Regions from separate parts of the Homo sapiens genome. Here region 2 is linked to region 1. Evidence: fine-mapped expression QTL. A gene starts in region 1. The other region holds a variant in brackets. All regions are shown on one strand. Distances are between the middles of the regions.

Region 1 (16,448 bases):
GCCTGGGACATCTAGGCTGCCGAGATCATGCCACTGTACTCTAGCCTGGGCAACAGAATGAGACCCTGTCTCAAATAAAATAAAATAAAATAAAATAAAATAAAATTAAAATTAAAATTAAATAAAATTAAAATAAAATTATAAAATAAAATAAAACAAAACAGGTAATTCTAATAGTGTTGTGAAGAGTGGATTGCCAGTGATAACTAGAAACAGAGAGGCCAATAAAATAATTCAAAGCAGTAGGTCTGCACTCAAGTACCAGCGTAGGGACTGGGAAGAGAGAATATGTTTAAAAGACACTCAAAGTCAAGATTTATTAGCACTCCCTGGCAGGTGTGAGTTGTACGCAGAGATGAGAGGAGAAAGGAAAGGTGAAAGTCATGGATGACTTTTAGATTTTTAATATAGGTACTGTGTAAATGTGGTACCAGTTATAGTACTGTGTAATGTGGTAGGAGTTATAGTTGGACAGAAGGTTGAGCTGCCTTTTTTGGTAAAGAGAATCCCATTTATTGAAGGGATTCCAAATACAAATTCAAGTGTTGGATTATAAGCAAAGGTGAAGAGATAATAGAATATATAACATTCAGGTAAACATCAGAAAATGCACATGCTAATTTGAGCAGTACAAAGGGGAAGTAAAATAATGTCCAAGGTCCTGTTTTATTCTAGGTTAAAGTGCTTTGTTTATACCTTTATTATATTTATGTCAATCTTATATATTACAACTTGTTGTACTATGTCTCCCAGCTGGACTGTGAGTTTCAGGGACCTCACTTATTCTTCATCTTTTTATCTCCATAGTGCCCTGCACATGGCAGGTGTGCAAATATAATCAGCACACCTAGTATATATACTGCTTATTATTTTGTTAAATAAAAGTTTTATGGCAACTTAACCTCATGACATTTAATATACTGGACTACTTGCCATTCTCTCTTCACTGAATTTTTCTACTGCTCTGACTTGCTGTTTTATTGACAATGGCAACTACTACTGAAATTCCATCCATTCTTTACAGCCCAACTGAAATGTTATTTCCCCCATAAGACCTTCCAGTGGCATATCATCTTGCCTATAAAGGGGACAGTGATTGATCTGTTACATTTGGGAATAGCTTCCAGAGCCTAAGGTAGTGCTTTTATGTACTTGATACATAAGTACAGTATTTGCCTAATTACACTGGAGTGATGTCTTTTTTCTTTTTTTGAGACACAGTCCCACTCTGTCACCTAGGCTGGAGTACAGTGGCACTATCTCTGCTCACCACAACCTCCACCTCTCAAGTTCAAGGAATTCTCCCGCCTCAGCCTCCCAAGTAGCTGGGACTACAGGTGTGTGCCCAGCTAATTTTGTAATTTTAGTAGAGATGAGGTTTCACCATGTTGGCCAGGCTGCTCTCAAGCTTCTGACCTCAAGTGATCCGCCCACCTTGGCCTCCTAAAGTGCTGGGATTACAGGTGTGAGCCATGTCTTAAACGTAAAGAAGTTCCATTCAGGAAAAACCTAGAATGGATTTTGTCTTCCTTATCGCTGAAAGGACCAAGGAAAAGACCCTAGGCGTAAAAATCAGTGAGTCCATTCAAATAAGACATTAGCATGCGTGATAAGAAAAGGCAGGGCCTTACAAGTCAAACTTGGTTTTAAATTCTGGCTAACAAGTGTGTAATACTGGGCAATTTATTAATCCTTTGGAACCTGGGATTCCTCATCTGTAAAATGAGATCAATGGCACTTTACCATACAGGGCAGTGAAGACTATACAAAATTACATCTTTAAAGTGTGTAGCATTCAGCAAATGATCAATAATCAGTGGCTATTTTTATTGTTTTTGGCATTAATTTCAGATCTATGATATAACCAATGATAATAATTTAAAAAAAATATCAGAACAGGAGTTCTGGAGGTGAGCTATTAAGTCTACATAATGTGTAAATTCTCTCAAGAAATCTAGTTAACTTCTTACTTACCTGAAGAGGTGACTATAGCTACTTAGCTTTCTAATGCATTTGGTTCAATAATCATATTTTATAAAATTGTGTCATCTATGGTTTTATGAAAAGATTAAAATTCAAATTCTTACATTCATGTATTTTAAATTAAGATTTTAACATTTGAAGCATGAACTTTTCAAAATTAAACAGCTGACTGACTTAAAGTACCTGCCTAAGAGCAGAAGCCATACTTTCCAAGTAACTTTATTGTTGAACCACAAATATGGCCAATTTTCTTTTATCTATCCAAAGTATCAGATTACCCAAAACTGTTTGTAAATAAAATTCTTCAAACTAATGACTAGCTGTCAAGAAATCTTAAATAACATCTGTGTTAAAACAAAGCAATTTCTGCATGGATATTACTTAATAAAGGTCTTTATTTGTTAAAAAATGATAACTTATGACACACGCTTAAGTTCTTGTCAGATACAAAAACTGAAGCTATTACCTACAGCCATCAATCTAGGTAAGGACACACAGTCCCCAAAATACCCACCCAGAGTCCCCTTTCAGTTTGAATATTCTCTTATTCTCTGATAAAAATCCTCTCTTGTCCCTATTACCCCTGACTGCTCTGAGGAGAATGAGATAGGACATCCCTAATTTACTTTAAGGCCCCAGTGGGAACTTAACTATATGACACTGAAGCTTGGTCATGTTTGTTCCAATGTAGAACTCATTAACAGATCCTTTCCCCTGTCTCTACTAAAAATACAAAAAATTAGCCAGGCATGGTGGCAGGCGCCTATAGTCCCAGCTACTCGGGAGGCTGAGGCAGGAGAATGGCGTGAACCCAGGAGGCGGGTCTTGCGGTGAGCTGAGATCGCGCCACTGCACTCTAGCCTGGGCGACAGAGCGAGACTCCATCTCAAAAAAAAAAAAAAAAAACAAAAAACAATAAAAACATATCATTTCATTAAAATGACAGGAAATTGCTTTAGTCATAAGATACAGACTACAAATTATTCTTTGAAAAACATGTGTGGTGTAATGGGAATGATTTCAAAGTCAGGAGTCCCAGCTCTGTTATCTCTCACAAGACTTTTAAATCTGTCTTTGTTTTCTCATCTGAAAAATGGGGCTTTCCAAACAGGCTTGTGGTGAGAATCAATGAGATAATGCATGTGAAAGCACTTGTAAAACTGTAAGGCCTGCACATTATAAAGTACCTGTTTCAGATGGGAACTTGTATTTGTAACTTTTTTCCTTAGGAAAATCCAACTATTAGCATGTACTAATATTTTTAAAGTGTTCTTTTGGCTTAAAATATTTTTTTCTTAAGAAAAAATTTATCGGTATATTAAAAACATTAAAGTTGAGGACTAGATAATGAAAACAAATGTAAGGCAAATCATTTGCTATGAAACTGGTGTTATCTTTAAGTTCCTTGAAACATCTTTCTGTTTCTATATTATCAATAAACTCAAGGGAAATCAACACGAAAAAATTATCAGAACCCAAGGTCATTTCTCTTGTGTGCCCCAGTAACGAAATCATTAATGTGGTTTACATTGGCATACATCCTGACTCAAAGAAAGGTAACAAGCCTTAACCAGTCAAGCTTCAAGCAATAAAAGAATGTTTTACATCATATATTTACCCTTATTTACGCTGCTATGGACTCTGTTGGAGACATGAAAGAATGCAACATTTCTTAAATGATCAACATCACATCCTGTCATTACTCTGGAATCAATGTTGACCATTTAAAAAATTCTCTTTGAACAGTCATCTCATTGAAAGTTTTAGATCTGTGATAACATAGTAGCACCTGAAAAAGAATGATTTGTTTGAACAGTTAACTCATCACACCCCTTCTGCATTTTACTAAATGAAAGGCCATAGAATAAAATGAAAAAAAAAATCTGTTTTTCTTCCCACATCATTAAACTATTAACACGGGTATTCTCCAAGTTCTTTATCAGCGTGAGATTAATTAGTTATATCAGAAATGCAACCAGAGTTAATTGTTGGAAAAATAGGTTTTCTATCTTATCAAAGATGAAGCAGAGACACACTTAGCTATGTTAAAACCATAAATACAGGCAAAGTTTATAAAACTTAAACAAGGACTGCTTATACACAAACAGAACTTTTCCTTCCTGAGACTTCTGAACAGTTCCTGTGACTTCATTACTTTTGCCAGACATAGAGGCATTTTTTGAGATTGTGCAGGTTTTCTTTTTGGGTTACATTTAAAATAATAACATTTATTGAATTACACCATGAATTACATTTATTGAGTGCTTCCCCTAAGCTAAGCACAGCCTTAAGGCTATGTGTTTTACTTAATTCTCTCACCAACCCTATGAGGCAATAAACGGTTAGGTAATGCACTCAAGTCCACATAACTAGTAAGAGCCAAGATTCAATCTCACACTGTCTGACTCCAAAGCCAATGTTCTTAAGCACTGCATTAAACTCCTATGCGATAAAAAAGGGTGCCACAAGGGAAAGAATAGATTTAATTTTATTTTTCAGTTCCAGGCTCTTATATCAAGTATTTATCTAATAACTGCATTGTTATGCAGCTTTACAATCTACTCCTTTTGTAAAGAAATTTATGTAAGAAAAGATATGTAGAAGATATCACAATCTTAAAAAAAAACCTGATCGGAAAGCTAATTTTATAATGGAGTTTAAAACAAAAGTTGAAAGAAACATTCCTGAAGGAATTGGTACCATAACACCTGGTGGGGTGCAAATCAGTTTCCAGATTATAACATCTCCAAGACAGTGCTTGCCACCTGAAGACATTCGTTTTGTAATATTTGCACCGGTTTTCCTTGTGGAATGAAGCCAGACAACCAAATAATGGAAAAACGTAGTTTTCCTTTTTTTTTTTGGAGATGGAGTCTCACTCTGTCACCCAAGCTGGAGTGCAACGGCGCGATCTTGGCTCACTGCAACCTCCGCCTCCCGGGTTCAAGTGATTCGCCTACCTCAGCCTCACGAGTAGCTGGGATTACAGGCGCCCACCACCAGGCCCAGCTAATTATTGTATTTTTGGTACAGACGGGGTTTCACCATGTTGGCCAGGCTGGTCTGGAACTCCTGACCTCAGGTGATCCACCCGCCTCAGCCTCCCAAAGGGCTGGGATTATGGGCGTGAGCCACTGCGCCCGGCCAGTTTTCCTTTTTTCAGGTAATAGGGGTTACTTCAGAATGTTTGGAATGTCGACAAATTAGAATACACAGCTAAGTCACAGCTCCCTTCATCTTTTGTCACAAAGTATGCACAGATCCAGTCAACTAGGGCCTAGCAGTGAAGTAAATCTTGTTCCTGAAAGGTGTTTTTCCTTTTGTTAACATTTAGGAATAAGTAAGACTTTGTTAAGGTAGGATTCCACCCTCCCTACACCCCCACCCCCCAAAAAAAACTATTTCCAAAAGTTACCTTAATATGTGTAAGGCAGTGTGTTTTTAACATTATAACCAATGTTACATTGTTTGCCTTTCCAAGACCCCAGCTGAAGGCTGTTCCAACTGTCAGGCCCTTTCCCATTACAACATGGTGCTATTTTGCAACCATGACAAATGCTGGCAATAATGCGAACATTTACTGAACGCCATGTGGCAAGCCCAGTGGTATGCGCTTGACAAGCATGGCATCTTCAGGCCACCTCTGAGGTAGGTACTGTCATCATTATACGATTTTACGGATGAGGAAAGTGAGGCTGGAGAGTCTAACCCCTCCAAAGGCAAACACAGCAAGAAGGGCACGAATATGAACTCAGGTCTGCCCCCAAAGCCAGAGTATTTAACAACTTCTTCAAACTGTTCTCAAGGAAGAGTCGCCAAACCCCACAAAAATCACTCGATCACCCCTCTTCAGCATACAAAATGTAAAGCATCCGAACAGCCTGCACCTGCAACTTTACAGACCAAGTTGTAAGCTCTCTCTACTCCCACAAAAAAAGGGTGGGCTAGCGTGGGGTGGGGGGAGAAGGCAAGAATCGGTTCCCAGCAAAGTAAAAAGCGAGAAAAGGGCCAAGCGCCCACGAAAGAAACCAATCTAAACTCGAAGCAAAGGGACCTAAATGCTTTAGAACTAAAACGGCAGAAAACCAACCAAGAAAACGAAAATGAATTCAGCAGAAGACCGACACAAGGTAACAGAGCGCCGGTGCAAAGGAAGCGGTCACAACGGATGCTGTATTTTATTAAAACCACACAGGCAGACCAAGAAAGTCGCAAGAGTTGAAGGAAAAATGCAAAGTCGGCTCCACAGACCTCTGGTTTTCAGACCCGCTGCTCGGGGTGAAAGGCAGAGCGCGGCCCGCACCTTCTCTCGTTAAATAGCCATTCGAAACGCCACAGAGAACGAAAGGGCTGAGGAAAGTGTCCGCGCCTCCGGGACCGCCATCGAGTTACCACCACTCGCTTGCTGGGCGCGGCGCGTGGAGGGGGCGCTGGTGCGACTCGGCTGCCCTACTTGCCGTCGGCACCCAAGTTTGTGCCAAGTCACAACGCGCGTTATCGGCAGCAGCAACGCCACTTCAGCCTCGCCGCCGCGGCGCCGGCACTTATCGGCGCCCACGTCCCGCCCCGCGCGTCCGGGAAGGTTCCGCGCCGGGCCCCGCCCGTCCTCACCTGCCCAGCTCCCGGCCCGGGCACAGGCTGTAGCCGTCCTGGAAGGGCTCGGTGCGCACCACGGCGCGTATCTCTGTCAGCAGCCCGCGGGCCTGGGGCGGCGGCGGCGGCCGGCACGGCCCGCTCAGACCCCGGCCTGCCCGGCCCGAGCCTGAGGTGGCGCCTGGGGAGGAGCCGCCGCTGCCTGGCTTCTCCAAAGGGATCATGGTGTTCAGGCCCGCTTCTTTCCTGGCCGCCTGTTCACTCCGAGCAGCCGGAGGGTCACGGACCCGCCCCCGGCTCCTAGTGCCGGTCCGCGGAGCCTTCAAACACCCGCTCTCCCCAGCGCGGCGCTCGGACTGCGGCAGGCAGACTACCGGTAGCTCGGGCCCGCCCCGCGCCCCGCGACCGGCCCCGCCCCCGTGACCGCCCCGCGCCTGCCCTGCACCCTGCTTCTGGCCCCGGCCAACCCCTCCCCACGTCCGCCCCGCGCCCGACCCCGCCCCGGCCTCACTCCGTGGCCGCCCGCCCCCTCGCTGAGCTCCCGCGGGGTCCTGAGCGCCCGATGCCTCACGCGCGCCCTCTGCAGCTCAGGGGGAGAAGGTGCAGCTTTCGGGACGGCCCGGAGGCTGGAGGCGACTCACAGCACCACCCTTTGGCCAGGACAGCCTACTGCGTTAGCAGAGTTGCGCACCTGTTGAGCGTCTGAGAGTCACAAAAGCTGACCTTCGGTTAATAAAAGGCATTTGAGCTGTAAGCGGGACTTCACGTGGTGAGGAGGGGAGGGGTCTGGAGGCACTTCGGTTAATAAAAGGCATTTGAGCTGTAAGCAGGACTTCACGTGGTGGGGAGGGGTGATGAGATCCTGATCTCCGTACACTGGGAGAGGGGTCTGGAGGCAGAGTTGTATAAATATTATTAACCCTGCACACCGGCCCTATGAAATAGACACTATTATATTGTCTGTAGTCGTCTCTATATTTACTTTCGAGGTCCTCTCATCCGGTCTTACGACTTTAATTACCATCTATATGCTCATGACTACAGAATTTGTATCTCTAGCTTCCAAATATTCCCTGAACTTCAGACTGGTGTATTTGACTATGCATTTGGCATCTCCACTTACATGTCAAATTAGCATCTCAGACTTAACATACACAAAAGTAAGTTGCTGATTGGTCTTCATGAATGCACTCCTACCCAGCTTTCCCCGTCTCAGTTTTCTTCATCTCCTTCCTTCTAGCTGTTCAGGCCAAAAATCTTGGGATGAGCATTGATTCCTCTCTCATGCTCATCTCCAGTTTGTCAGTAAACCCTCTTGTCTTTTCCTTCAAACTAGATGCGGCGTTTGATCACTTCTCTCTATTTCCACCTTACCACCATGGCCTGAGCCATCGTTATCTCTTACCTGGATTATTGTGATAGTTTACTAACTGGACCACCTGCTTCCATCCTTCTTTCTCCCTAATGTCGCATAGTTCATTTTCAAGGCAATGAGAGTGATCTTTTAAAAATCGAAACCAAATCACACCACTGCTCTACTCAGACTGTCTCAGTGGAGTTTTGCTTCTGGCACTGATATACTAGTTTATTTGTGTTCAATATTCTCACTAAGAAAAAATAGAAAAGTTGACAAAAGTTAAAAATTTCCTCTCCCAGCAAGGACTTGGATGACTGAAATCCTGGAAAGATAGGCAGCTCAGAAAGCCACCACTTTTCCCATGAGGTATTTGATGATTTTAAAGCCATGGCTGAAAGAGTGAGAAAGTAAGCAGAGCTTTCAGTCATCTCATGGGGTTGGGGAGACAAAAAAAAAATTGGAGTTTAGGACCTATTTATGATGAGGGGCTGGTAAGCAACTAGGCTTTCAGCTGGGACTCCGAAGAGCTATACCCTAGGGGTGTGGATGAACGGGAAATAGACCCAAGGGCTGAAAACCAGCTTCAAATGGCAACAGTAAATATTCTCTCTGGGGAAAAAAAGCATCATTCAGAGCAACACATTACCCATATAATATTTTATACACCATGTCTGAAACTTAATTTAAACAAAGGACACAGAATTGTCTTAAAAACTAAGGGAAAAAGAAAACAGAAATAAACACACAGAAGATCCAGATATTAAAGTTTAAAGACAGATTTTAAAATAATTCTGTTAAATATCTTCAAGAAATTAAATTGCAAGATAAAGAGTTTTCAGCAGAGAACTGGAAACTCCAAAGAAGAATACAATGGAATTTTGGAATTGGAGAAAAAAACACACTAACTAAAACTACTACAGAATTATGGGCTTAATAACAGATGAGATACAACTTAAGCAAGAATTAGTGAAGCTAATAAGCAAAACAAAATATGAAAAATGACATACAAGAGATATGAAAGAACTTTCTATAAAAGAGATAAGGTCTCAGAAAGGAGACTATGACACATGTGATATGTGGTAAAACATTCTAACACACACGTAATTGGAATATCAGGAAGAGAGGTGAGAGAAAAAAGGAAAAGAAGCAGTATTTGAAAAGATAACGGCTGGAAATTTTTTAAAACTAATGAACAACAATTCTCAGAGTCAAGAAACATTATGAACATAGAGCAGGATTTCAAGCAAAGAAAACCATGTCTAGGCACATTGTAAACTACTGAGAAACAAAATCAAAAAGAAAAGGTTTAAAATCAGCAAAGAAAACAGAGATATAATCTGCAAATGAGCAACAATAAAATTAAAAGCTTATTCTCAAAGAACCAATGGAAGCCTAAACACCTTCAAATGTTTTCAAAGCGCTAGGAGAAATTACCTATCAACCTATATTATATACCCAGTAAAAATGATCTTCAAAATTGAAAATAAAATACAGCCAGTTTTATAACCAAGAAACACTAAGATCATCAGCTGATTTACATTAAAGGAAATTCCAAAAGGAGTTTTTCAGGCAGATGGAATATAATCCCAAATGAAATCATGGAGACATCTAAAGGAATGAAGAGCAATCAATCCTTTTATATATGGATAGATATAAATACATATATATATATGGATAGATATAAATAAACACAATTTATATAAAACAATAAAAATAACGTCATGTGAAGTTTAAATATATGTAGAATTAAAATATACACAATAGCAGCACAAAAAGTGAGATAGAGTAAATGAAAGTAAAGTGTTCTAAAGTCCTAGGATTGTATAGGAATTGATAAAAGTACTTGGCTTTAATACATCAATAATGAATATTATAATCTCTAGAATAACAGCAAAAGTAATAGAAAAAGAATGAATAACATGTAAAAAAGAGGGGAAATGAAAAAATAAAAAATAAAAGAAGCAAGAAAGGGAAAAAAGGAACACAGACAAGTAGAAACAAATAGATGATCACTTTGGGAAGCCAAGGAGGGTAGATCACCTGAGGTCAGGAGTTCGAGACCAGCCTGGTCAACATAGTGAAACCCCCATCTCTATTAAAATAAAACACAAAAAACGAGCTAGGCGTGGTGGTGGGCACCTGTAGTCCCAGCTACTCGGGAGGCTGAGGCAGGAGAATCACTTGAACCCAGGAGGCGGAGGCTGCAGTGAGCCGAGATTGTACCACTGCACTCCAGCCTGGGCAGCAGAGTGAAACTCTGTCTCAAAAAAAAAAAAAAAGGTAAATTTTTTAAAACAGGAGGGTTTTTTGGCAAGTACATTAAATATAAATGGAATCTATACTCCAGTTAAAAGGCAAATGCTATGGACAGAATTAAAAATAATATCAATTATATGTTGCTTGTAAGAGACACCTCAAATAAAAGGCTACAGAAAGATTGAAAGGATGGAAAGAATTATGCCATGTAAATACAGGCATATCTCATTTTATTGCAATTTGCTTTATTGCACTTTGCAGATATTACATTTTTTACGAACTGAAGGTTTGTGGCAACCTTGCATCAAGCAAGTCTACCAGTGCCATTTTTCCAACAGTATGTGCTGTCTTCATTTCTTTCTGTCACATTTTGGTAATTCTCACTATGTTTCAAACTTTATTATTACTATTATATCTGTTATGGTGGACCGTGATCTTTGATCTTTGATGTTATTATTGTAATTGCTTTTGGGTACCATGAATTGCACTCATGCAAAGTTAATTGATAAATGTGTGTGATCTAACTGCTCCACCAATCAGCCCCCCATTTCTCTTCCTCTCCTCAGGCCTCCCTATTCTCTGAAACACAACAATATTGAAATAGACCAATTAAAAACCCTAAAACAGCCTCTAAGTGTTCAAGTGAAAGGAAGATTCCCATGTCTTTTACTTGAAATAAAAGCTCAAAATGGTTAAGCTTAGTGAGGAAGGCATGTAGAAAGCCAAGATGGGCTGAAAGCTAGGCCTCTTGAGCCAGTTAGCCAAATTGTGAATACAAAGGAAAAGTTCTGGAAGGGAATTAAAAATACTACCCCAGTGAACATATTAAAAATACTACCCCAGTGAACATAGGAATGATAAAAATAGTGAAACAGCCTTCTTGCTGATATGGAGAAAGTTTGAGTGGTCTGGATAGAAGATCAAACCAGCCACAAGATTCCCTTAAGCCAAAGCCTAATCCAGAGCAAGGCTTTACCTCTCTTCAATTCTCTGAAGGCTGAGAGAGGTTAGGCAGCTGCCAAAGAAAAGTTTGAAGTTAGCAGAGGTTGATTCATGAGATTTAAGGAAAGAGACTATCTGCATAACATAAAAGTTCAAGGTGAAGTAGTAAGTGCTGATGTAGAAGCTGCAGGAATTTATTTAGAAGATCTAGCTCAAGTAATTGATGAAGAGAGCTATATGAAACAACAGGTTTTCAGTGTAGATTAAATGACTTTCTATTGGAAGAAGATGTCATCTAAGACTCAGAGTTAGAGAGTAAAAGTCCAGGCTTGGCTTCAAAGCTTCAAAGGACAGGCTGACTCCCTTGTTAGGGGCTAATGCAGCTCATGACTCTAAGGTGAAGCCGATGCTCTTTGACCACTCTAAAAATTCTAGGGCCTTTAAGAATTATGCCAAATCTACTCTGCCTATGCTCTAGAAATCGAAAAACAAAGGCTGGATGACAGCACATGTATTTACAACATAGTCTACTGAACATTTTAAGCCCAGTCTGGAGACCTAGTGCTCAGAAAAAAAAAATAGATTCCTTTCAAAATATTACTGCTCATTGACAATGTACCAACAACCCAAGAGCTCTGATGGAAATGTGCAAGGAGATGAATATTGTTTTCATGCCTGCTAACACAACATCCATTCTGCTGTCCATGGAACAAGGAGTAATTTTGACTTCCAAGTCTTGTTACTTCAGAAATATATTTTGTAAGGCTGTAGCTGCCATAGATAGTGAATCTTCTGATGGATCTGGGCAAAGTCAATTGAAAATCTTCTGACCATTTTAGATGTCATTAAGAGAATTCATGGTTCATGGGAGGAGTTAAAAATATCAACATTAACAGGAATTTGAGGAAGTTGATTCCAATCCTCATGGATGACTTTGAGGGGCTCAAGACATCAGTGGAAGATGCTTGTTATAGATGAGCAAAGAAAGTGGTTTCCTGAGATGGAATCTACTCCTGTTGAAGATGCCGTAAACACTGTTGAAATGACAACAAACGATTTAGAATATTACATAAACTTAGTTGATAAAATGGTGGCAATTTTGATTCCAATTTTGAAGGAAGTCCTACTGATAGAGGCAAGAGGCAGACAAAGGCCTAGGCAGATAGGGAAGGGTCCCCGGAGAATCTCCAACTCGCCCCACAAGTGTTTACATCAGATGTTTTGTGCAGATAAGGGAACCTGCACAGGGGACTTGCCTGAGCATGCCCGCAGTGAACTGGAGGCCCACAAGCACTGGGGGAATGGGGTGGAGCCACCAGGAATTCGTGTCTTATGCAGGGGAGGAGCCTGGCTAAGGAGCCTAGATAAGGAGCAAAAAAATCCTGCATCACTACTGTGTGGGTAAAATGCTATCAAACAGCATTGCATGCTACAGAGGAATCTTTTGTGAAAGAAAGGGTCAATCAATGTGGCAAACATCATCTTTGTCTTATATTAAGAAATTGCTACAGCCACCCTAACCTTCAGCTACCACCACCTTGATCAGTCAGTTGCCATCAGCATGGAGGCAAGACCCCTCACCAGCAAAAAAATTACAACTTACTGAAGGCTGAGATGATCAATAGCACTTTTTAGCAATATAGTATTTTAAAATTAATGTATGTTGTTTCGCATATACATTCATTTAAAATGTACAATGTATGTACATTGTTTTTCTAGACATAATGCTATTGCTCACTTAATAGACCATAGAATAGTGTAGACATAACTTATATATGCACTGGGAAACCAAAAAATTTGTGTGACTTGCTTTATTATGATATTATTACTGCAGTAGTCTGGAACTGAATCTGCAATATCTCTGGGTTATGTATGCCTATTGTGCCTAATAGAAAATTGGTTGTACCTATAAAAATATTAGACAAAGTAGATGTTAAGGCAAGAAGTATTATAAGAGATAAAATGCATTAGTGAAAAAAGAATCAATTCAATGCTATCTTTAAAAGATAGTATTGAAATATACGAAGCAAAATGACAGAACTAAAAGGAGAAATACACAAATCTACCATCACAACCTGAGATTTTTAACACATTCCTCTCTGTAACTGATAGAACAAGCAGGGAAAAAAATAGAAAGGACATAGAAGCATTGAACAACACAATGAACAAAATTGACATGATACACATACAACACTACAGAATATATATTATTTTGCTGCAAAAAGAATATTTATTGATTATGTAGTGGGTCGTAAAGCACTTTTCAACAATTTTAAAGGACTGAAATTCTATAGAGTATGCCCTATCATCATAGTGGAATTAAGGAAGAAACCAAATGTCATCTATTATTTTGATATAAAACAACCACAACCAAAAGCCACAATCACAAATAAGTGGAAATTGGCCAATTTACTTCTCATCTATGTTGACAGAAAATGCTGGGAAAAAACATTGCATAATATTCAATACCCACTCATGACTGATTAAAATAGAAGGGAATTTCCTAAACTTAAGAAGATACATCTCTAAAAAACCTACAGAAGTATTATCGTTGAAGTCAGAGGCACAGCAAAGTTACGTGCTATCACGACTCTTATTCAGTGTTGCAGTTGAGAACCTAAATAGTGCAGTAAGACACTCTGGCATTAATATTGGAAAGGAAGAATTTAAATGGTCATGAAGGAATAGTCACAATTGTTAAATGTAGAGAATTCTATATTCTACTTCTAGAATATCCAAAAGAATAAACTGGACCGGGCTCATGCCTGTAATCCTAACACTTTGGGAGACCGAGGTGGGAAGATCGCTTGAGCTTAGGAGTTTGAAACCAGCCTGGGCAACATAGTGAAACCTTGTTTCTATTAATGCTATTTTAAAATGTAATAAAAAAGGGCTGGGTGTGATGGCTCATGCCTGTAATCCCACCACTTTGGGAGGGAGGCCGAGGTGGGTGGATTGCTTGAGGTCAGGAGTTCAAGACCAGCCTGATCAACATGGTGAAACCCCGTCTCTACTAAAAATACAAAAATTAGCCGGGCATGGTGGCGGGCATCTGTAATTCCAGCTACTCGGGAGGCTGAGGCATAAGAATCGCTTAAACCCGGGAGGTGTAGGTTGCAGTGAGCCAGGATAGTGCCACTGCACTCCAGCCTGGGTGACAGCATGAGACCCCATCTCAAAAAAGAAAATTTTAAAATAAAAGAAAATAAATAAATAAGTAAAATGTAATAAAAAAGAATCAACTGAAAAATATTAAAATTAATATATTTTAAAAGACAATTAGGTTTAATAAAAATAAATCAATAGCATTCCTACATAATAACAATGAGATATGAAAGCTAATGGGGAACTATTCCATTTGAATAAAATGAAAATAAAGCATGCAGAAACGACCCTCACAAAAATGCACAAAGCTTATATTTTATTTTAAAGAATGTATCTATTCTAAGAGACATAAACAAATGCTTCAATAGAGATACATAGATGAAAAGATTAGATTCTGTAATTCTTTGGAAATAAATCAGTATCTTTAACAAAATTCTAATAAGTCTCAAAAATATGTCTTTTGGAATGTGTTAAAATTATCTCAGAGTTCATCATGAAGAATATCCAAATGAGTGTAGCTAGAAAATTTTTGCAAAAGAAAGTCGTAAGGAGAGAACTGTCCTAACATATTAAAATACAGTATGAAATAAGATAGCTCAACATAGCAGAATAGTTTTGAAATAGAGTTATAATATTTAAGAAACCACAATAAGCCCCAAATCTTCTAAATCATTAAATGTAAAACAAACAAACAAAAACTACAAAATCTAGAAAGAAATGACACATAACAATTAGCTGACTTTTTCTTTTTTTGTTGTTTTTTTGACACGGGGTCTCACTGTTGCCCAGACTGGAGTGGAGTGGTGCCAGCTCGGCTCACTGCAACCTCTGCCTCCTGGATTGAAGCGATTCTCTTGCCTCGGCCTCCCGAGTAGCTGGGATTACAGGCATGTGCCACCATGCTTGGCTAATTTTTGTATTTTTAGTAGAGACAGGTTTTTGCCATGTTGGCTAGGTTGGTCTTGAACTCCTGGCCTCAAATGATCCATCCTCCTTGGCCTCCCAAAGTGCTGGAATTACAGGCATTAGTCACTTTGCCTGGCCTTGACAATTAGCTGATTTCTGAAAGAAAAAGTAACTTCTAAGAAATAAAGCAGTGGAAAAAAACTCCAAGAAAAATATTTGACTACCTAATAATTCAAAAATCATTGCATATCAAAAAATGTTATATGCAAAGTTAGAAGGCAAACAAGCTGGAAATACATTAGCAAAAAGCATTATAGATAAAAATCATACCCTAAATGAAGAACATATAATAAGAGGTGTGCCAACACTATATTAGAAAGAGGTCAAAGAAAATAAAAGATTTTTTTATAGTGAAATGTTCAAATTTAATTTATATTTCCTGGAGAAATATAAATGGGGTTTCATTTTTGCCAATAAAATTGGCAAAGATTTTTAGGGTAATTCAATGCCCATTGTTAGTGATAATGGGGAGAAAGACTGGAAAGATAAAAACCCAAGTGCTTTTTGTTTCCTTGTGTTGTTCTGATCTGTGTTTTTCTGTATAGAGCGCTATACCTGATTTTATCAGATATTCTTACCTGGCCCACCTGTTTTAATATCAACCTGAGTTTATCTTTATCAAATTGCATTATAAGTGTATACTTTCTTTCTTCCTAGTTAGATCAGAAGGGACCATTTATTCTATATCCTCAGTGTGTATAAGTGACACTTTGTAAATATTGATGAATAGATGTGGTTGAATTGAGTATGCAATGCTCTTACTATCCGAGTAAGATAATGGTTAAATGAATTTTGATATATTTACCTGATAGGTTATTATGCAATACTTTTTTTTTTTTGAGATGGAGTTTCTCTTTTGTTGCCCAGGCTGGAGTGCAATAGTGTGATCTCAGCTCACTGCAACCTCCGCCTCCTGGGTTCAAGCTATGCTCCTTCCTCAGCCTCCCAAGTAGCTGGGATTACAAGCATGCACCACCATGCCCAGCTAATTTTGTATTTTTAGTAGAGATGGGGCTTCCCCATGTTGGTCAGGCTGGTCTCGAACTCCCCACCTCAGGTGATCCGCCTTCCTTGGCCTCCCAAAGTTCTGGGATTACAGGCGTGAGCCACCGTGCCTGGCACTTACATATCAACCTTTTGAAAAAGATTTTTAGGGTAGAAAATCAGTTTTCTTAGGTCAATCTGACAGAAGTTTAATCTAAAAAAAATCAACTGGGCAATATTTTTAAACATACAATTATAATAA
Region 2 (16,448 bases), 460 kb before region 1:
TGGGAGGACACTGGCCTGACTTACCATGGGGTGGGGGTTGTGAGGGACAAAGCCATGGAGATGGGAGCACACATCTACTATGAGGAAAACATGAGCTGTGGAGTTTCCCAATGACTGCTATACATTCATGTGTCAAATACTCACCTGGCCACTAGGTATATGGATTTGAAGAGACAAAACATATCTACATATTCCTGAACCCAGAGCACCCAAAAGGAGAAGCAAGTCGGAGAAATACACACACTGGGCCCCTTGGAAGGCTGCCCACCACTCCTGTGCACGTCTGCCCTGGCTCCAGTGAAGCCTGGTGGGTAGGGCAGCAGGTCCTTCCAGGCTTGAGACTCTTTGGTAAACACAGACTACCACAGGTTGTGTTTATCAGAAACCACAAAGGAATGACACGACATGAAATCACACAGTTAAAGCCATGAACCTGCCAAGCCCCTCACGGACAGGTACCCATGAGCAAGTTTTCTATCTAGCAGAGCCTTATCTCTCCATGGGTGACATGGGGCCATGGCTTTCTTTTCCTGAAAGATTAATTATTCATAAGAACTTTGGGCTGGGCGCAGTGGCTCACGCCTGTAATCCCAGCACTCTGGGAGGCCGAGGCGGGCAGATGTGGATCACGAGGTCAGGAGATCGAGACCATTCTGGCTAACACGGTGAAATCCCATCTCTACTAAAAATACAAAAAATCAGCTGGGCGTGGCAGCAGGCACCTGTAGTCCCAGCTACTCAGGAGGTTGAGGCAGGAGAATGGCATGAACCCGGGAGGCGGGGCTTGCAGTGAGCCAAGATCGCGCCACTGCACTCCAGCCTGGGCAACAGAGTGAGACTCCATCTCAAAAAAAAGAACAGAACTCTGGGCCAGGTGGGTGGCTCGTGTCTGTAATCCCAGGACTTTGGGAGGCTGAGGCAGGAGGGTCGCTTGAGCCCAGGAGTTTGAGACCAGCCTGGGCAACATGGTGGGACCCTGTCTCTACCAAAAATACAAAAATCAGCCAGGCGTGGTGGCATATGCCCGTAGTCCCAACTACTCGGGAGGCTGAGGTGGGAGGATTGCTTAAGCCTGGGAGGTCGAGGCTACAGTGAGCCATGATGATGCCATTGTACTCCAGCCCAAACAACAGAGTGAAACCCCAACTCTTAAAAACAAAAACAAAAACAAAACTCTGGTAAAGATTCATTCTGGCTTGCTAATAGCATGAACCTTGCAGCAACTGAACATCCCCAGCAGGGCTGCTGGACATGGGCTGGAGGCACTGACCCACTGGACTATAAGTCAAAGGCAAAACCCAGTCCAGTGTGTGTCATCTCCCCAGGCTCTAAAGCACAGGCCTGCTGAGGCAGGCCAGACAGAAGCTCCAGGGATAAACAGTCGGACAGGAACCAAATCAGCTTCAACTTGGCTTCCCCAGGGCTTTGCCAGTGCCACTGGGCAGAGATACTTATGCCTCAGAAAAATGGAAGAAATTAGACCCAGGCCCAGTGGATCTGGTTGGTAGGGAGGAGACAGGCCTCCGGGAAAAGGCACTCCTTACCAGGAGGGGAGACAGAATACAGGAGAGAAACACTGAATGAGAAACACTCAGAGAAAAGGAACTAGAGAAAAGAACACAGAAAAACAAGAGAAAGATTTGGGAGGTGGCACACTGCCAGCATGAGCTGGGGGGAACTCCCTGGAGGAAAGAAGCCCATTCCTCTTGATGGCCACAAAGCCCTGGCTCCCAGAAGATAGCAAGCTGGCACAAGCAGCAGGTAACAGAAGATGGCAGCTCAACCCAGCTCTTGCAAGAAGGGACTCAACCAGCTGCGATGGCTCATGCCGGTAATCCCAGCACTTTGGGAGGCCAAGGCGGGTGGATCACCTGAGGTTAGGAGTTTGAGACCAGCCTGGCCAACATGGGAAACCCCGTCTCTACTAAAAATACAAAATTAGCTGGGTGTGGTGGTGGGTGCCTGTAATCCCAGCTACTTGGGACGCTGAGGCAGGAAAATCACTTGAACCTGGGAGGCAGAGGTTGCAGTGAGCCAAGATCGTGCCACTTCACTCCAGCCTGGGCGACAGAGCAAGACTCTTGTCTCAAAAAAAAAAAAAAAAAAAAAAAGGGACTCAGCAGCTAATATAATAAGAGCCAAGCTCAATGCCTGCCACCTATCCCTCTGACTTGATCCCTCTCTACCCCAGGCCACCTTTAAGAATGTTCCCAGCGCAGAGGCTCATTCCCAGTTCAGAGGCCTTTTGAAAGAAGGGCGAAGGAAGTTTCAAATCAACATGAAAAAACATGGTGCACTGGCCTCTGAACAGCAAGGCATATGGAGTGTCAAGCATCTTATAATTCAATAGTGCCTTTGAAAATAAGTACTGAGAGCCTACTGCTTATTAGTTACAGGAATGCAGCTATGAACAATCCCTAAAAGGTCCTGCCCATGGAACTTACTTTCTAACGGAAGAAAAAACACACACCTAACACTAACGTACTATTAGAGAGTGAAGCAGGTGCTGAAGGTGACACATGAACCAGGTGAGAACAAACCATGCCAAGATACGGAGTAAGCAGGGGCGGGAGACAGATCCAAGATGGAGAGCTGATGTCATGGTTGCTCCCCACTCTATCTGCCCTCCCCAATGCCAGCACTGTGTGTGTGAAACCTCTTATGACCCACCAAACTAGAGACCACCTCTTCTTCCTCTGATATCTCTACCACTTTTTCTGTATGACTTGGTCCATCCTTCATCTAAGCATCTGCCACATGTAACAACCGTGCCTCAAGCACCGAGGACAGAGACAGAGCCCACCCCACCCCTTCTAGTAAGAGATAAAGGTGACAAGAAAATCCATAAGGATTTCCAGCATATTTTGTGTCTGGCATGTGTCTGAAGGAAGTCAAACAGAAAGATGGGAAAAAGTGCCTACAAACAAGGAGCTAGGAATCAAGGAAGGCCTCTCTGAGAAGGCAACCTCGGGGCCAAGAAGTGAAGGCTGGGGAGCCACCTGGGACGATGTGGAAAAAGTGTGCTCCATGCAGAGGAAGCAGCAGAGCAAGGACTCTGAAGAGGAACCAGCTTGTAAGTTTGAGGAAGAGAAAGACGGCCAGAGTGGTGACAAACAGGTGTGGCCACAGTGTGGTAAATGAAAGGGGTGGTAGGTTCTGGGTCATGCAGGGCATCAGCAGGGCAAGGAGTCTAGGCTTTATTCAACATGCAACAGGAAGCCACTGTAGAGTTACAGACACGGAAGTGACATGGTCCAGATATTTTTCCGCAGTGTGCAGGAATCTGCCACATAGTATCTGCTGAGTAACTACCTTAATGGCTGTGACGATGAGGGTGGAGGTCAGTGGGTTATGCTGCTGAGTGACACAACCTGTAGTGCTGCAGGAGCCTGGAGGTAGGGAGGGAGCATAGCATGGCTGTCTGGGCAGATGAGTCCAGTGAGATGGGTGGGTTCTGACTTCATGAGGGGAAAGAGGAGGCTCCACAACCCTCATGAGGGACAGAGAGTAGATGGGGTGGGTAAGCACCGGGCCAGGAGTGGTAGCAGACAGCTCTCGTAAGCAGCCCAAGGAAAGGCTAGGAACATAGGAGGTCTGAAGAGGGAAGCCCAAACTGCCAGGTGGGCTGGGAGGCATCATCCCAAACCAGTGATGGTTCCTGAGAAGACTGATGATGAAGAGAGACCTGGAAGGGAGATAGATGAGGAGTGCCAGGAAGCTCCTAGGTAAGTCTGCCAGGGTAAACAGAGTGATCAAGAGCATGTTAAGAAGCAAAATCTTTAATTTGGCAGGGCTGAAGAGGGGCAAAGATTCTTCTGGGTTCTAAAGCCAAGTGGTATGATGTGGACATGAAAATGGGGCACTCATTGCAGAGATACTTTTGACTGGGTTTGAAGTAACAGGAGAGGTCTAAGAGAAACACGAACAGGAATAGGAGAGAGGCAAAACAGAGGGCTGACATCTAGAAACTCTCCTGAGAAAAATAACACTGACTGACGTGGGTAAATCTGAGGGATTATAAAGCAGGCAGAAAACCCCACCAAGGAAATGACGAGATATCCTTCTTTAGATGCCTCCAAAACAGAAGATGTGCTGTTTGGCATAAGTGCCATCCAGGGCACTCAGACCTGACAGGAGAGTCTACAGAGACCCCATAGAACCAAGCAACTGGTGTTCTAAAGCTCTTCCCCTAATGGCCCAGGGCTGAGGAAAAAGCAAAGCCATAACATCCTCAGGGTCACAATAGTACACTGCATAAAAGCCGCTCTGTGCTGGGCACTACGGAGAGCAGAGGAGATGAGAAAGCACTTACACAAGTGGAGATGGCCCCCACACAAGGGGAAGACAGTTGGGAGGGCCTCAGTGCTGACCACAGTGTGGCCCCACCACGACTCAGACTCCAAGGCCCAGTTTCTATTCCCCAAAGTTGGTCACCTTAGCCCACCATACTCAGCATATTTCTCAGAACTGGGATTTCTCAAAACTGGTCAGTAAAAACAATTTAAGCAAAGAGGAAAGTGAGGATATCTTGGGTGGTAGAGGGAAAATGGGACCTTTTCCCAAATAGATAGCGAGCATCCTACTTTCGTACATCTTCCCATGGCTCAGGCACAAGAAAGAGTACACTTTTTGGAGAAACGAAAGTTCTGAAGTCCACGTTCACAGACAGCCAAGAACCCAGATCCCTGAGCTCCTCGTCTGAAGCCCCCAGGGCAGGGCTCACATTCACAGCCCGGCTGCCAGGCCGCTCTCAAATGCCCATCCCCGAACACAGCGTTTGCAAAAAAACCGGGCGTGGCTTCCGCCTTCTCAGAGAGGGCTGTGCAGGAACCCCTTCTCCAGGGAAGTCCCAGGACTGGAAAGAAGAACCTGGCGAAGCTAGCAAGCACGACCAGGCCGAGGATCCAACATGGAAGCCCGCGAAGCCCACAGTGGGTGGCGAGCGACAGGGGGAGGGGCGGGGACTCACTGGGTCCCCCCAAGCCGGGTTTAACCTGTCCACGATCGGCGGGGCAAGGGGTCACGAGGGTGAGACAGCACTCCTGCTGCGGTGTGGAGGGGCAGACAGGTAAGCCCCAGGCCACCTGCCTGGGCACCGCTCCGCGCTCGCGCTCCCGCTCCCCCCGAGTCCCCCGCTCGCCCCAGACAGACCCACCCCTGAGGCAGCCCCTGGCCCGACCCTGGCCCGTCTCGCCGCCCACCAGTCGGTCGGGGACTTCTCGGTGACCACCCGCACGTAGGCCTCTTGCAGCGCTGGCCCGTTCCGGCTCAGGTTCGCCGCCATGGCCCGCCCCGCAGTCTCCGCGCCGCTGCTGTAGCTTCCGGGCCGGGCCGGGCCGCCCCTTTGACAGCCGACAAGCCTCGCCTCCGACAACCGGAAACCCCGCCCCACGGCAGGAAGCGGAAATGGTAGGGGCCAGCCGCACCCGCGGGTCCTAGCGAGCTGTCCGGCCAGCTGGTCTAGCATGCAGGTCCCGCGAATGCCGAAGGACAAGCGGGAGAAGGGAGGACCCGGCCTTCTGTTTGTCCTCAGGGAGGGATCCTGGGGCGCAGACTAGCCCGTCTTCTGGTCCCACCCAAACGGCAGCTCGACTTGGAAGCCTGGCCGCAGGGACCCAGTCCAGCCCCCGCTAGCTGCTCTCACAGCACCGTGCTTATTCTTTTCTAAATCTTGTTATGTCGATGCGCTTATTTGAACGATCTTGGGTTCACTGCAGTCTCCCTCCAGACGAGGTCTTCAGCCTGTTTGTGGACCCTCAACAGTTTGATCTGTGAAAGAAACATGCATAAATGTATGAATACACGAATAAATGAGTGCTAAGTGACGATCACACCGCTACAAACCTAACTGAAAGTGACTGTGCTTTCTCACTCTCACCTGAGTTTTTCCCTCTGCAGTTTGGTCGAGGCCAGGATAGTGGAGGCATGAAGAGAACCTGTCTTGTGCTTCACCTGCACATCTGGCTGGTCGCCCCTAGAAGGTGTCAGTAATTCCTCAATCTGCTCCCCTCCTCCTGGGAGCACCAGTTTTTCCATCCACAAATCTGCATACACTTGACTGAACTAGCTTCTTATCTGTATGATAGAGAAACATGCCAAAGCGCAAGGCAGCTCACGGCTTATTTCCTCCCATGGAGAATAACTCCCCTGCCTCCTTAAAATATAAATCCTGCCGGGCACGGTGGCTCACGCCTGTAATCCCAGCACTTTGGGAGGCCGAGGTGGACGAATCAAGGGGTCACGAGATCGACACCATCCTGGCTAATACGATGAAACCCCGTCTCTACTAAAACAAAAAATTAGCCAGGCGTGGCGGCGTGCGCCTGTAGTCCCAGCTACTCGGGAGGCTGAGGCAGGAGAATGGCGTGAACCAGGGAGGCAGAGCTTGCACTGAGCCGACATAGCGCCACTGCACTCCAGCCTGGGCTACAGGGCGGGACTCTGTCTCAAAAAAAGTATAGTATATATATACATATATACACACACATAGTATATATATGTGTATATATATACACACACACATAGTGTATATGTATATATACTATGTGTGTATATATGTATACATATATGTATATATATGCATATGTATAGGTATACATATATGTATATATGCATAGGTATAGGTATACATATATGTATATATATGCATAGATATAGGTATACATATATGTATATATATGCATAGGTATAGGTATACATATATGTATATATATGCATAGGTATAGGTATACATATATATGTATATATATGCATAGGTATAGGTATACATATATGTATATATATGCATAGGTATAGGTATACATATATGTATATATATGCATAGGTATAGGTATACATATATGTATATATATGCATAGGTATAGGTATACATATATGTATATATGCATATGTATATATGCATATGTATATATGTGCATATGTATATGTATATGTGCATATGTATATATGCATATGTATATGTATATATGCATATGTATATATATGCATATGTATATGTATACATATATTATATATGCATATGTATATGTATATATGCACATGTATATATATACACATATGTATATATATGCATATGTGTATATATATACATATAGTATATATATGTATATATCCACAATCCCTTAAGTCCAGATGTGCTTTGGAATTCAATCTAAGATTTCAGAAAAGTTATACCATGTATGTCCTGGGTAAGCCCTTATCACAGGATCTGGACAGGAACTGGTAATCAGACATGTTCATGCTTTTGCTGTGATATGTGTGAATAATCAGCTAAGTGTGTGATATGTGTGAATAATCAGCTAAGTGGAATATAAGACGACTCTAAATATCCTCATGACAATTAAGGTCAGTTTTTGCTACCAAATGAACTACCAAAATCTTAAGGTGTTTGAGTCTGGATGGTGCAGATAAGGGCTTGTGAACCTAATTTGGACAAAAACATGGTTCATTTGTTATGCCCATTTTTCTTTCTGTTCACATGATTGTTGCTTGTTGTCTTGTTTGTTTTGTGCTGCTATAACAAAGTACCACAGACTATGTAATTTACATAGAACAGAAATTTATTTTCTCACAGTTCTGGAGGCTGGGAAGTCCAAGGTCATGGCACTAGTATCTGATGAGGGGCTTCTTGCTGCATCATAACATGGTGAAAGGCAAAGAGGATGAGAGAAAGACAAAAAGGGGCCAGACTCATTCTTTTTTTTTTTTTTTTTTTT[G/TG]AGATGGAATCTCACTCTGTAGCCAGGCTGGAGTGCAGTGACCACGAACTCGGCTCACTGAAACCTCTGCCTCCCAAGTTCAAGTAATTCTCCTGCCTCAGCCTCCTGAGTAGCTGGGACTACAGGCACGTGCCACCATGCCCAGATAATTTTTGTATTTTTAGTAGAGATAGGGTTTCACCATGTTGGCCAGGATGGTCTCGATCTCTTGACCTCGTGATCTGCCCACCTTGGCCTCCCAAAGTACTGGGATTACAGGTGTGAGCCACCCTGCCCGGCCCCAAACTCAGTCTTTTCTAATGAACCTGAGGCAGGAGAATAGGGGCTGGAAGCAGGCAACAGAACGCCAATGCACACTAACCTCCTAGAACCAAATCAAAAGGAAAACGCCTACTTATGACCAAGTAACAAAAGACCAACACCCTGTTCCGGAGCAACTCTCTGGCCTCAAAGTCCATGGAGTCTTTTCTGAAGGTGAGGTTGCATGCTATATTGTCCTCATCTTGCAAATGACAACACTGAGCTTCAGAGAGAGCGACAGAGGGGGCTGGGACTTCGACTCCAGTGTTCTATCTCCATATTGAGAGCCCTTTAAGGTTAAGAATGTGGCTGGGCATAGTGGCTCATGCCTGTAATTCCAGCACTTTGGGAGGCTGAGGCGGGCGGATCACTTAAGGTCAGGAGTTCGAGACCAGCCTGGCCAACATGGCGAAACCCCATCTCTACTAAAAATACAAAAATTAGCCTGGCATGGTGGTGGGCACCTGTGATCCCAGCTACTGGGGAGGCTGAGGCAGGAGACTCACTTGAACCAGAAGCCAGAGATTGTAGTGAGCTCACGCCACTGCACTCTAGCCTGGGCCCCGTGCTAGACTCCGTGCCCCGCACCCCCCCCCCCCAAAAGAATGTGTGTGTGATTAAAATTTAAGTTAGAGACAGTCTCACTATGTTGCCCAGGCTGGTCTCAAACTCCTGGCCTCAAGTGATCCTCCTGCCTCGGCCTCCCAAAGTGCTAGGATTACAAGGGCTAAGAATTCTAGTCATTCATTCACTCACTCATTCATTCATTCATGAATAAACAGTTTGCCCTGCTTGTGTACCTGTCCCCCTCCTGGGCGGATACGGCAGGCAAACGGTGCAAGGGCGGCTGCCGGGAGAAGGTGGGCAGCTGGAGTGGGACTGGGGGAGACAGGATCAATGTGACCTGCGGTGGTCCCCAGGTGGCCGGGATGCAGTACCTGCACGGCGTCCTGGGCCCCATCATCAACAAGGTGTTTGAGGAGAAGTACGTGGAGCTGGACCCCAGCAAAGTGGAAGTTAAGGATGTAGGGTGAGGCCGGGGGTAACTCCGGGGGGGTGCGGGGCGCAGCGGCAGCGGGTTGGGATCAGGCCCTGTCAGCATGTGTGTTTGTGCTTCTGCCCACCCGTGTATTGTCCCCTGTGTCCGTGTCCCGGCTGCTGTGAGAGCCACTGTTCCTGTCGTGGCCCTGGCGCTGACCGTGACCTCCTCTGCCAACCCGCCCCGTTCCACGCAGGTGTTCCGGGCTGCACCGCCCGCAGACCGAGGCCGAGGTGCTGGAGCAGAGCGCGCAGACGCTGCGCGCCCACCTGGGGGCCCTGCTGAGCGCGCTCAGCCGCTCGGTTCCCGCGTGCCCCGCCGTGGTGCGCGCCACCTTCCGCCAGCTCTTCCGGCGCGTGCGCGAGCGCTTCCCCGGCGCCCAGCACGAGGTGCGCCCTCCACCCGCTGGGCTAGGCTGGGCCGGGTTGGACTGGGCTGGGGCGAGGGGCGGGCGAAGAGCGGTGGGGAACCAGGGAGCGCTGGGGAGGACCAGGGAGGCTGTGTCCCGGCGAGGGTCAGGGACGGAGCCTAAGGGGAGGGGGCTGCCAGGAGCCCTGGTCTGGGGGACTCCAGCCCGCGCTCTTCCGCACCCCTCCAGAATGTACCGTTCATCGCCGTCACCAGCTTCCTGTGCCTGCGCTTCTTCTCTCCCGCCATCATGTCGCCCAAGCTCTTCCACCTGCGGGAGCGCCACGCGGACGCCCGCACCAGCCGCACCCTGCTCCTGTTGGCCAAGGTGCGGGCCTTGCGGCCACGGGCGGGATGCACAGCTGGGTGTCCTACCGGGGCCCTGGCCTGGACTGCAGAGTGTTCCCTACCGGCTCCGGCGAGGCCACTGGCACGCCCACGTAGGCACTGCACTTCACAGTTTGCAAAGCCTTCCTGTGGCCACCTTGTCCGAGTTCCATCTCATGGATAAGGGAACAGGCCTGCGAGGGGTCGGGGGTTGCCAAGGCCGCCCATCCTGTCGGTGGTGAATCGCGGGACCTTCCAACCCAGGTCTGCTTACTCTCAGGCTGCACCTATGTGCCCGGCACCGGGGTGGGGTATCCAGTGCAGCAGCGTCAGTTAAACCTACAGAGGAAGGCCCAAGTGGTCTCAGTTATCATAAGGCATCAAACTTCATGATCCTCTCCTCCCTGATCCCTAGTGGGGCTGGAGGGGGCCCGTGGGCATGGCCTCTGTCGCCTCTGCCTCCATCGCTACAGCTGAGTAGCAAAGACTTGGGGAGGGGGGGTGGGAGGGGGTGCAGTGGCTAGGCCCCTAACCTAGCAGAACCTGGTCCTTCCTGCTGTCACCTCCAGGCAGTCCAGAACGTGGGCAACATGGACACGCCGGCTTCCAGGGCCAAGGAGGCTTGGATGGAGCCGCTGCAGCCCACCGTGCGCCAGGGCGTGGCGCAGCTGAAGGACTTCATCACCAAGCTCGTGGACATCGAGGAGAAGGACGGTGAGCGCCGCCCTGCACAGACCCGCCCACAGCCTACTGCTGACGTTTGCTCCGCCCTTGAGCCCCACGGCCCCACCCACCGCTGTTTGTTCCTCTCGTGGCCCCACCCACCGCCTGCTGTTGACATTTGCCAGGCCCCCAGGCCATAGACCCACGCACCACTGTTTGTGCTTCCTGTGACCCTGCCCACTGCCTGCTGTTGACGTTTGCCCCACCCCTAGACCCATGGCCTCACCTCCCATCATCTGTGCCTGTTGACATTTGCTCCATCCTTGAGCTCCATAGCCCCGCCGCCACCTGCTACTGACGCGTGTCCCGCCTCCAAGCCCATGGCCCTGCCTTCCTCAGTCCACCTGTCACCCCGCTCACCACCAGCTGTTGATGTTTGCTCCGCCCTTGAGCCCCATGACTACGTCCACTGCCTGCTGTTCAGATTTGCTCAGCCCTTGAGCCCCATGGCCCCGCCCACTGCTCCGCCCCCCCCCCCCAGTCCCGCCCTCATTCCCTGGGCTCTCTATTCCCCTCCCTCCCTGGCCTGGCAGAGCTGGACCTGCAGCGGACGCTGAGTTTGCAGGCGCCACCTGTGAAGGAGGGGCCACTCTTCATCCACAGGACCAAGGGCAAGGGCCCCCTCATGTCCTCCTCCTTCAAGAAGCTCTACTTCTCCCTCACTACCGAGGCCCTCAGCTTCGCGAAGACGCCCAGCTCCAAGGTGGGTAAGGAGGGAGGCCGGCAAGTGGGGCTCTGAGAGGCCGGCAAGTGGGGCACCTTAGAGGCACCTGTCCCCTTCCTTGGAGCCCACTTGAGGTACCCCCGGGGTCAGAGAAGAAAGCCAGGTGTGTGGCATCTGTACTGCTTGTCAGAACCTAGGAGGGCCGGGCACGGTGGCTCACGCCTGTAATCCCAGGACTTTGGGAGGCCAAGGCGGGTGGATCACTTGAGGTTAGGAGTTTGAGACCAGCCTGGCCAACATGGAGAAACCCCGTCTCTACTAAAAATACAAAAAATCAGCCGGGTGTGGTGGTGGGTGCCTGTAGTCCCAGCTACTCGGGAGCCTGAGGCACGGGAATCGCTTGAACCCGGGAGGCAGAAGTTGCAGTGAGCCGAGATCGTGCCACTGCACTCCAACCTGGGCAACAGAGCAAGACTCCGTCTCAAAAAAAAAAATGAATATGGAGGAAGTTGATCCGACCTTACCAGGTTGTTGAGGATTAAATGAGATGATCTCCCTAAGGGTCCTGACCCAGGGCCTGGCAGGTAGTACTATTTAGGCAAATGGTATTATTAAAGATAGTACATCACCTGGGCTGCTAGATGAGTAGGAGGCTAGGGCAAACAGGGGAGGCTTCCTGGAACGGGCAGGAATATAGAAGCATGGAATCTTGGTGTGGGAGGGGATCTCAAAGATCACCTTGTACAGCCCTCTCTGAGTCATGGGTCACCTCTCCTGCAAGCTCTCTTCTCCCAGGAAGGGCTGAGGACATACTTCCTCCATGGACCTGGTGACTGCTTGCTGTACACCTGCCCCTAGTCATGCAGGCTATGGGGATGATCTTCCAGGAGTACCCAGCCTAGCCCTGGGCAGGTGAGAGCAGGCTAGGAGTAGGTGAAGGAGCTCATCACCCACCCTGTTCTCAACCAGCTCAGGGGTCCCACCAGATGAGGGGCCCGCCCCTTCCGACCAAAGACCCCTCAGATGATGATAATTATTTTTTGAGACAGGGTCTTGCTCTGTCACCCAGACTGTAGTGCAGTGGTGCGATCATAGCTGACTGCAGCCTCAAACTCCTGGGCTCAAGCAATCTTCCTGCCTCAGCCTCCTGAGTAGCTGGGACTACAGGCACGTGCCACCAAGCCCAGCTAATTTTCTTTAACATTTTTTTTTTGCAGAGATGGGGTCTTGCTATGCTGCCCAGGCTGTTCTCAAACTCCTGGCCTCAGGCAATCCTCCTGCCCCAGCCTCCCAAAGCACTCAGATGATTATTATACATCTTCCTTGCCAGGGTTGAAAGATTTGACTACATGGGCATTATTTAATTCTGGTCCCATTTTTTTTTTTTTTTTTGAGATGGAGTTTCACTTTTGTTGCCCCGGCCAGAGTGCAATGGTGCGATCTTGGCTCACCGCAACCTCCGCCTCCCGGGTTCAAGCGATTCTCCTGCCTCAGCCTCCCAAGTAGCTGGGATTACAGGCATGCACCACCATGCCCGGCTAATTTTGTATTTTTAGTAGACACGGAGTTTCTCCATGTTTGTCAGGCTGGTCTCGAACTCCCAACCTCAGGTGATCCGCCTTCCTCGGCCTCCCAAAATGCTGGGATTACATGTGTGAGCCACTGCGCCCGGTCAGGATATGACTGTTAGAGCTTGGGACTACAAAAGCAAGTTGGAAAATTAATAAATGCAAAGTCACAAAGCCTTGGCCACGGCTGGATTGACTTTGTAGCCCAGGGAATGCTGGCTGTCCAGACACTACCCCAAAGCTCACACCTCCGAGGCCTTCTGGGAGTGCCCCCCAGAGAGGCCAGGTCCTCCTCTCCCAGTTGCTGGGCACTTGGTCACCATCAGTCTGTGCTCTGCCCTGGCTGAGGTCACTCTGGGTCTCCCACGCCTACCCCTGGTGCTGCAGAAGGGGAGACTGAGGCCCAGAGATGGGGAATGGAATGCCCCTGGCTAGGTCCCTGAGCCTCCTCCTCCCTGACTGCCCCAGAAAAGCGCCCTCATCAAGTTAGCCAACATCCGGGCAGCAGAAAAGGTTGAGGAAAAGAACTTTGGCAGCTCGCACGTCATGCAGGTCATCTACACGGACGACGCCGGCAGGCCCCAGACTGCCTACCTGCAGTGCAAGGTGCGGGGAGGGGAGCGGGTGCTGTGGGAGTGGCCTGAACACTGTGGGAGTGGCTTGGGTGCTGTGGGAGTGGCCTGGGTACTGTGGGAGTGGCATGAGCCCTGTGGGAGTGGCCTGAGCTCTATGGGAGTGGCCTGGGTGCTGTGGGAGTGCCCTGGATGCTATGGGAATGCCCTGGGTGCTGTGGGAATGGCCTGGGTGCTATGGGAGTGGCCTGAGCTCTGTGGGAGTGGCCTGGGTGCTGTGGGAGGGGCCTGAGTGGACTGGATGAGAAAAGAGTTGATTGAGCCTCTCGCCCCGCTACCAGCTACATCAGGCACCGCAGGGTGTGTCTAATCTGGGAGGTGTCAGGGACAGGTGTGTGTGTGTTGTCCAGGGGCCTGAGCCCCCAGGAGGCCATGGCCCATGTCTTTCCCTGGGCATCCATGTGTAGGTCTGTGTGTGGGCCAGTGCACAGACAGGTGCATCCCCGTGATGTGAAATTTGCACGTTGCACCCGTTTGTTGGAAACTATTTCCAGATAACTGAGATGGGGGCCAGGCACGCTGGTTCACGCGGATAATCCCAGCATTCTAGCCGGGGCAACAGAGCAAGACCCTTTCTCTAAAAAAGAAAGTCTGAGCTGGCACCTGTGTGGTTCTGTGTCTGTATCAATGCCTAATAATCAAACATTATGCTCTGTGTGGCTCTGGGTGCATGTTCTCAAGTAACCTTCTCATCTGTTCCTTCATTAACTCATTCATTCATTTATTTAAAAAATACTTACTGAGCACCTCCTAGGTTCCAGGCATGATTCTAGGTGAGGGGATACAGTGACAGATGAGGCAGAGTCCTGCCCTCATGGAGCTGATATCCCAGGGAGAAGATGGGCCAATAAATACATGTTTCAAATGTCGGCTCATGCCTGTAGTCCCAGTACTTTGGGAGGCTGAGGTGGGAGGATCACTGGAGGCCAGGAGTTTGAGAACAGCCTGGCCAATGTAGCAAGACCCCATCTCTACAAAAAAAAAAGTAGCCAGCCATGATGGCATGCACCTGTGATTCCAGCTACTTGGGAGGCTGAGGCAGGAAGATAGCCTGAACCCAGGAGTTGGAGGCTGCAGTGAACTATGATCACACCACTGCACTCCAGCCTGGGCTACAGAGTGAGACCCTGTCTCTTAAAAAAAAAAAAAAAAGCAAATTGTGATAGTGACTTGAAGGGAACCAGAAGGGACTAAGGGAGCAAGGGAGGGAAGAGAGTGGGGTATAGCAGGGAGCGGTCTGTCCTATTAAGAGTGGTCAGGGAGAATACAAAAATTAGCTGGGCGTGGTGGCGTGTGCCTGTAGTCCCAGCTACTTGGGGGGCTGAGGCAGGAGAATCACTTGAACCTGAGAGGTGGAGGTTGCAGTGAGCTGAGATCGAGCCACTGCACTCCAGCCTGGTGACAGAGCAAGACTCCATCTCAAAATAAATAAATTAATTAATTAGTAAATTAATTAAAGAGTGGTCAGGGAGGACCTCTGATGGGTGGCATTCGAGCAGGGACCTTGTAGGAGGGTGACCCAGATGTGTATCTAGGGCAGGGACATGTGGGACAAGTAGGAAGCCTGCAGCTGGAGGGGGGTTGGTTTCTTCCAGGCTTGACCGTCCTGGCCTGTGGGGAGGAAGTCACAGACCTGTCCCTCTGTGCCCTTCCCTCTAGGAGTTCCCTTTTGTGTCAGGGTCCAGAGCCACTGGGAAAAGTAGTGATATCAGGGCCACCAAATATATTTGGCGGGTTCTGGAATACCTACGAGCGTGGCCAAGGGGCCAGCGGCGGCTGAAATCCAGCCCACACCAGCCTCCTGGGCTCCTACCATCCCGGTGCCTTCCGTGGGGACAAGTGGAGCTGTTGCCACCAAAAAGACAAGACAGGTGGGAGAGGAGAGGATGAAGTCTTGCTGTGTTGCCCAGGCTGGTCTTGAATTCCTGGGCTCAAGCGATCTTCCCACCTCGGCCCCCTATAATCCCAGCTGTAGTCCCAGCACTTTGGGAGGCTGGGGTGGGAAGATCACTGGAGGCCAGGAGTTTGAGAACAGCCTGGCCAATGTAGCAAGACCCCATCTCTAAAAAAAAGAAATTAGCCAGCCATGATGGCATTATAGGAGTGAGCCACTGGGATTATAGGAGTGAGCCACTGCACCTGCTCTCCAGGCCATGCGCCCGGGCATGGGTCATGTTCCACTGGAGGAAGGGCAGCTTCTCCTAATTCACTCAAAGCTGCTGGGTTGGTATGGTGGGGAACATGGTGTCTGGCATGGTACAGGAGCTCCGGGTTAGGAGGGCTTCCTGGAGGAGGTGACGTCTGAACAGGCCTCCCCCTCTGTGTCCCCTGCAGTGTGTGAATGAGCTTAACCAGTGGCTGTCTGTGCTGCGGAAGGTGAGCATCAACAACACCGGACTGCTGGGCTCCTACCACCCTGGCATCTTCTGTGGGGACAAGTGGAGCTGCTGCCACCAAAAAGAGAAGACAGGTGGGAGAGGAGGCCTGGGTCCCGGGCTCTGCATCCGTCCACTGCGAGATCGGGCCTCTGGCTGAACGATGGGACCGTGAGCCCTGCTGTGCACCTGCAGGGACATAACCCAAGGAATGCTGGCCCCTCCAGGAGCTCTGGGCAGAAAGGGTCCCGTGGACCAGGTGGTTTGGGAAATGCCACGTGATGTGTGTGAAGCACATGAGTGAATTCGCTGAAGGCTCTAAGGAGGCCCGAAAACACGTTAGAATCCCATTTCTTTTTATTTCTTCTTCTTTTTTTTTTTTCAGACACAGATTTTCACTCTGTCCCCCAGACTGGAGTGCAATGGCACGATCTCAGCTCACTGCAATCTCCACCTCCCAGGGTCAAGCAATTCTCCTGCCTCAACCTCCCCAGTAGCTGGGATTACCGGCACTCGCCACCAAGCCTAGCTAATTTTTTTGTATTTTGACTAGAGATGGGGTTTCACCATGTTAGTCAAGCTGCTCTTGTTTTTTTTTGTTGTTGTTGTTGTTGTTGTTTGATACCAAGTCTCGCTCTATCATCCAGGCTGGAGTGCAGTGGTGCAATCTCGGCTCACTGCAATCTCTGTTTCCCAG

Which allele goes with the higher level. Alleles are on the strand shown, and positions count from the first base shown. SD is a standard deviation of normalised expression in the study named.
For the expression in monocytes of the gene that starts at base 6,936 in region 1, allele TG in region 2 goes with a higher level than allele G (moderate effect, 0.48 SD a copy in Quach 2016).

What was found. PIP is the estimated chance that this variant, and not a neighbour inherited with it, causes the effect.
Region 2: its variant is fine-mapped to the expression of STK17A in monocytes (Quach 2016, PIP 0.95).

Annotation. Positions count from the first base shown.
Region 1 is chr7:43,573,596-43,590,043 of GRCh38, reverse strand. STK17A (serine/threonine kinase 17a) reads right to left here and starts at 6,936. Exons shown (of 7, transcript NM_004760.3): 1 at 6,595-6,936. The coding sequence starts at 6,800. RefSeq lists enhancers at 3,059-3,118, 5,847-5,956, 6,087-6,136, 12,083-12,584, 11,716-12,915 and a silencer at 6,537-7,316.
Region 2 is chr7:44,033,574-44,050,021 of GRCh38, reverse strand. It overlaps DBNL (drebrin like), which reads right to left and starts at 5,320. Exons shown (of 13, transcript NM_001014436.3): 1 at 5,202-5,320. The coding sequence starts at 5,284. LINC00957 (long intergenic non-protein coding RNA 957) reads right to left here and starts at 10,973. Exons shown (of 3, transcript NR_072982.1): 1 at 10,873-10,973; 2 at 9,660-10,128; 3 at 5,726-5,769. It also overlaps the pseudogene RASA4CP. RefSeq lists enhancers at 4,622-5,122, 13,139-13,638 and silencers at 5,061-5,280, 9,398-9,507, 9,598-9,687. The variant G/TG (reference allele first, on the strand shown) is at 7,716.